Linked DNA regions of Homo sapiens. The protein of the gene in region 1 interacts with the protein of each later gene in a pairwise test. Each region holds a gene or a part of one and is shown in the gene's direction. Other genes may lie near its edges.

Region 1 (3,027 bases):
ATCCTGACTAATATGGTGAAACCCAGTCTTTACTAAAAATACAAAAAAAAAATTAGTCAGGTGTGGTCGTGGGTGCCTGCAGTCCCAGCTACTTGGGAGGCTGAGGCAGGAGTATGGCGTGAACCTGGGAGGCAGAGCTTGCAGTGAGCCAAGATCACGCCACTGCACTCCAGCCTGGGCAACAAGCAAGACTCTGTCTCAAAAAAAAAAATTAACACAACCTAGAACAAAACAAAACATATTTTACCATTTAATTTTTAAATTCTTCATTAGGCATTAGAGTGTAATACACAAAATACAATAGGATGCAAATATAGAAAGAAACACGTTTTCCACATTATTTACAAGCTCCCAGAACTTACCTCTATATTTAATTGGTAGCAATGATGGATTACACACAAAATTATGCAATTTCCAAGAGGAATAAAGTAGATGGCAGTACATTTTTCAAAGTGTCATAACTCCTAGATATTTTTTCCCGAGCCCGGTTCCACTACTAAATCCAAAAAATAAAATAAAATAAACCAAAAAACACATTTCCTAGTCTCTTTACAGCAAATAACAAGACTCTTTCATGAGAAGTACTACAGCTTGAAAGTTCTCTTTAATCATGTTTGAGTGGTATTGATATCCATGAATCAAGCCTTTTACTCCACCTATTCAATAAACATTTATTGAATCAGATTCAGTAAACATTTATTAAGGTTCTACCACAAACTAAGGACTCTGCTGGATACCTTCCTAAATACTATGTCAGTTTGGTTCCCAAGAACAGATTTCTGGTCTGGAACAGGAATAATAGTCACACATTCCAAATTGGTTGAAATCAAAGGAACTATAATCGGTAATTCAATAAGACATTGGAACAAAAAAAGGTGAAATCTGCGAATTATGTATGACCAAAGGTATTCCTTCAGTTCAGTAGATATCCAGATATCCAAAATTCAATAAAATTTAGTCTATATATCTAGGAGGAAAAAATAATAGTTAAATATAACAGCACAATTATTACTCTTAGCCTTAGAGGTATGGATAGATTGTCACGTGGAATAACTATTATGTAAAATGAGAGCATTCATTTGGACTAAAATGGAAGTACTCTTTGAACATGGGAAACCACAAACATATTCCAAAGAGCAAAGGACTGATATGAGGAGTCCAGAAGAAACTATAAAACAGTAATTTCTAAACTATTGCTCATAATGTGTCACAAGTATTTCAACATAAGCCAATCAGAGATCCACGGAGTAACAAATTTAAACAAAAACAAAGAAAATATGTTAACAATTTTGTAAACAGCAGCTGGTTCAGATATATAAAAGGACCAACGTGGAAGTCACCACCAAACCTCAGAAACTCCTCCAAGCAACCTAACTCTTAACCCAACTTCTGACACCATGACCTGCTGCCAGACCAGCTTCTGTGGATATCCCAGCTTCTCCATCAGTGGGACCTGTGGCTCCAGCTGCTGCCAGCCAAGCTGCTGTGAGACCAGCTGCTGCCAGCCACGCAGCTGCCAGACTAGCTTCTGCGGATTTCCCAGCTTCTCAACCAGTGGGACCTGCAGCTCCAGTTGCTGCCAGCCAAGCTGCTGTGAGACCAGCTGCTGCCAGCCAAGCTGCTGTGAGACCAGCTGCTGCCAGCCAAGCTGCTGCCAGATCAGCTCCTGCGGAACTGGCTGTGGCATTGGTGGTGGCATCAGCTATGGCCAGGAGGGCAGCAGTGGAGCTGTGAGCACCCGTATCAGGTGGTGCCGCCCAGACAGTCGTGTGGAGGGCACCTACCTACCCCCCTGCTGTGTGGTGAGCTGCACGCCCCCATCCTGCTGCCAACTGCACCATGCCCAGGCCTCCTGCTGCCGCCCGTCCTACTGTGGACAGTCCTGCTGCCGCCCAGTCTGCTGCTGTGAGCCCACTTGCTGAAAGCCAGTTTGCTTATTTTCAATTGCCTAGGTCACAGTGTCTCTGAACTGTTCATCCCTTGACCACCTCTGGACCACTAACAAGTTCTCAGACTTTGCATTGCTTGTGATGGAGACTACTAAGTATATGAGCTCACAATTCTATCTGATTCCATTCTACAATGAATACCTTGACCCTTCACTGGGGACACAGAAATGCTACAAAGCCACCTGCTGATCATCAATTTGCTTGGGATATACTATTTCTGATATTTCTGCAGGATTAAAAATTACTGACATGTTGTGGAATTTATCCATGAGAACTATCCACAAGTCTAATGTTTCCATGCTTTATAATCTATTTTATCTTGTTTACCTAAAATTTTTTGCAACATCAAAGACACCAAATTATAGCCAAGTGACATTCCTCAAGTCACCAGAGAGAATGGAAGCTCATCACCCAACATTCAGCTTCTAAGAAGTAGGCTGGACTTTCCACATTTTAACATCTGATCCATCCCTTGGTTTTTGGATCATAATGATCTTGCCTGCTGGATATTTCAGTTATATCTGTGATACAATGTCTTCTGTCATTTCTTAATAAATATTATATACTAGGCAAAGAAACCATTGTCTTTGTTTTCACTTGTACATCACCTGGTTTAACTGCTTATAATTCAAGAATGTCTACTTGAGGCCAAGAGCAGTGGTTCACACCTGTAATCCTAGCATTTTGGGAGGCTGAGGTGAGTGGATTACCTGAGCTCACGAGTTTGAGACCAGCCTGGGCAACATGGTGAAACCCTGTCTCTACTAAAAATACAAAAAAAAAAAAAAAAAATTAGCTGGGCGTGGTAGTGCACACCTGTAGTCCCAGCTACTTGGGAGGCTGAGGAAGGAGAATCGCTTGAACCCAGGAGGCAGAGGTTTCAGTGAGCTAAGATCATGCTACTGCACTCCATTACACTATGCAATAAACTGCAGCAAGCTCTCAAAATGGCAATTTCCTATATATGACACCAAAGAAGACATAAAGTGCATTAAAAAGTTAAGTAATGGTAAAAAGACACATATTTCCAAGTCGAAAGCAAATGTGGGAGCTTTTCTTTTATTGAGGATCATTGGCC
Region 2 (2,789 bases), on another chromosome or scaffold:
GGCTGAGGCGGGTGGATCATGAGGTCAGGAGTTCGAGAGGAGCCTGGCCAACATAGTGAAACCCTGTCTCTACTACAAATACAAAAATTAGCTGGGTGTGGTGGCACACACCTGTAGTCCCAGCTATTCGGGAGGCTGACGCGGGAGAATCACTTGAACCCAGGAGGCAGAGTTTCCAGTGAGCCGAGACCATGCCACTGCACTCCAGCCTGGGTGACAGAGTGAGACTCTGTCTCAAAAAAAAAAAAAAAGTTGAGCTTTGAGCTTTCCAGCTGTGCCTATGTACGCTTTATTCCCAAGAAGGACTAGTTGTTTCTCTTGCTTAAAAAAATCTCTTCATTCTCTATATTACTATGACACTGTGTGGCATATATTTTTCTTTTTTTATTGTGGTAAAGTATATATAACATAAAGTTTACAATTTTAACCATTTTTAGGGGCACAATTCAGTGGCATTTATTCAAAATGTTGTGCAACCATCACCACCATCCATCTTCAGAACCTTTTCATCATTCCAGACGGAAACTCCATACCCATGAAACAATAACTCCCCATTCCCTTTTCCTCCAGCCCCTGACAACCACCACACTACTTTCTCTCTGAATTTCCCTATTCTTGGTATCGAATATAAGTAGAGTCATACAGTATTTGTCCTTTTGTGTCTGGCTTATTTCACTTAGCCTAATGTTCTCAAGGTTCATCCATGTTATAGCATGTATTGGAATTCCATTCCTTTTTAAGGCTGAATAATATCCCACTGTGTGTGTGTGTGTGTGTGTGTGTGTGTGTGTGTGTGTGTGTGTACACCACGTTTTATACATTCATGCACTGATGGACATTTGGGTTGCTTTCACCTTTTGGCTATTGTGAATGCTGCTGCCATGAACATTGGTATACAATGTGTGTCATATTTGAGGCTTAGCAAATGCTGCCAGGCCCTGTTTGCTTCTTCTCCTGCATGTGTGTCTTATTTCCCCAGCTAGAAGATAAGGTCCATAAGCTAGGTGTGGGTCTTACACTTCTTGGTGTTTTTCATCCTTTATTCTGTTTCTCCCAGTATCGTGCAGAAATATAAATACTTGGTGCTGATAATTACGCTAAAATTAAAAAATAAGGAAACTGTTTAGAAGTACATAGTATTTTAAAGAAGTACTTTATGTCCATATTTACATGGGGAGAGTATTTGACTTGTTTTTCCAATTTCTAAAAGTGATAGTATATTAATATGCTATCACTTTTCAAGTGTTTAATAATTTTCAAATGTTTAATAATAGAGTAACAGCCAAGAAGTATGTATGGGTCATGAGTCAGGAACATTTAAATAGATCTAGCTGATTATAAAGTAAATCTATAGAAGCCTTTTTGTTGCTGTTTTTCTCTTTTGAATCAAGGACATGAGTTCAAATACCACATTAACTCAAGAGGTAAAAGCTGTGTCCCCCATCCTAAGAAGTTGTAGGAGAGAATATGTCAAATTTCTCTTACAAAAATAGAGTCATTCTACAGTAGAGTCTTTCTATAGAGTCATTATATAAAGTGAAGATGGCTTCATATGTATGTGACGCAAATGAACCTCTCATTGGAAACCTTATATTTTATATTAAAAAAGAAGCAGTTTAATTAAAATGCAAATTTGGGATAAGTATGAATTCCTATCAGATGTATGTTGACACTTGCACTGAGGTAATTGAAGAGTGTTTTAAAGTGTATTTACTTATGTTTGCCACATATTTATTGCTTTGTTAAAGGCCAAAGTTTTGGTTTTTGGTTACATCTGAGATACATCCTGTATTAGAAGAATGTTTCTAAGTAGGCCTTTAAGGCTTTTAAAATAAATAACAAGTGTAGGAGAAGATGGTTTCTAGAAGGTGCTTTGATGAAATTTCACAAAGTTTTGTTTTTTGGTTACACTTAAGATACACCTGTATTAGAAGAATGTTCATAAGTAGGCCCTTAAGGCTTTTAAAATGACAAGTGTAGGAGAAGATTGTTTCTAGAGGGTGCTTTGATGAAATTTCACCGGCTGGCTATCTGTATATAATCAGGTGTGCCCACAGAGAAGGCAACAATGAAGCTATTCAGGCAGGGCAGCAGAAAACACAGGCAAAGCAATTGTTTACAACTCAACAACTGGGTCATTAGGAATTTTCATCTTTCGATCAGCTACCCTGGCTTTGAGTAGCCACAGCCAGCGCGTGTTTCAAAAAAGGACAAAACTCTATTTGCAAATAGCTTGCTACTAAAAAATATGTTTCTTTATTATAAAGTCCTGTTGGAATTTACTACTGCAAAGCAAACCACTCTGACTTACTCTTTTCTGTGTGCTTAGCCCTGCAATATTACCAGCTGTTAAGTAAAAATGTTCTTAGGTCAAGATGTTAAATTTGCAACTGGTTTACTTTATCGCAAGTCTCTGCTTTATTTGGGAAGCCTTTTTTTCCCTCCTTCTTCTTTTCATATAATATAAAAAGGTATCTTCAAATTTCACTGGCTTTAAAAAAAGGTATCTTCAAGTCCTTTCCATGAACTGTACCAGCAAAACAGTTCATGCACAGGTATCTGCCTCGTGCCACCCGTGGCGGTGGAGTGTGATGCGTTGTTTCATTGATGGATAATAATGCCCCCGTGCAATTTAACAAACCCTTTCTAGCCACTTCCTTTTTTCCTCTCCAGCAACTTATCCTGCCATCCGGAATTCATAGCTGGTTTCGTTTGCTTTCTAGTACAAGTTATTGGCAACCAAGTTTGCCAATGCCTCAAGTGGCTTCTTATGAAAGATTTCAATGGAT

What was found. Proteins that work in one complex are often made in the same cells at the same time.
Region 2: the proteins of KRTAP1-5 (region 1) and DMRT3 interact in binary tests that used the Homo sapiens proteins (3 or more experiments, as listed by UniProt).

The regions. Positions count from the first base shown.
Region 1 is NC_000017.11:41,025,526-41,028,552, reverse strand, and holds KRTAP1-5 (keratin-associated protein 1-5), read left to right. Parts: upstream 1-1,344; 5' UTR 1,345-1,397; coding exon 1,398-1,922; 3' UTR 1,923-2,527; downstream 2,528-3,027. UniProt on the Homo sapiens protein: In the hair cortex, hair keratin intermediate filaments are embedded in an interfilamentous matrix, consisting of hair keratin-associated proteins (KRTAP), which are essential for the formation of a rigid and resistant hair shaft through their extensive disulfide bond cross-linking with abundant cysteine residues of hair keratins.
Region 2 is NC_000009.12:986,655-989,443, forward strand, and holds part of DMRT3 (doublesex- and mab-3-related transcription factor 3), read left to right. Parts: intron 1-2,789. UniProt on the Homo sapiens protein: Probable transcription factor that plays a role in configuring the spinal circuits controlling stride in vertebrates.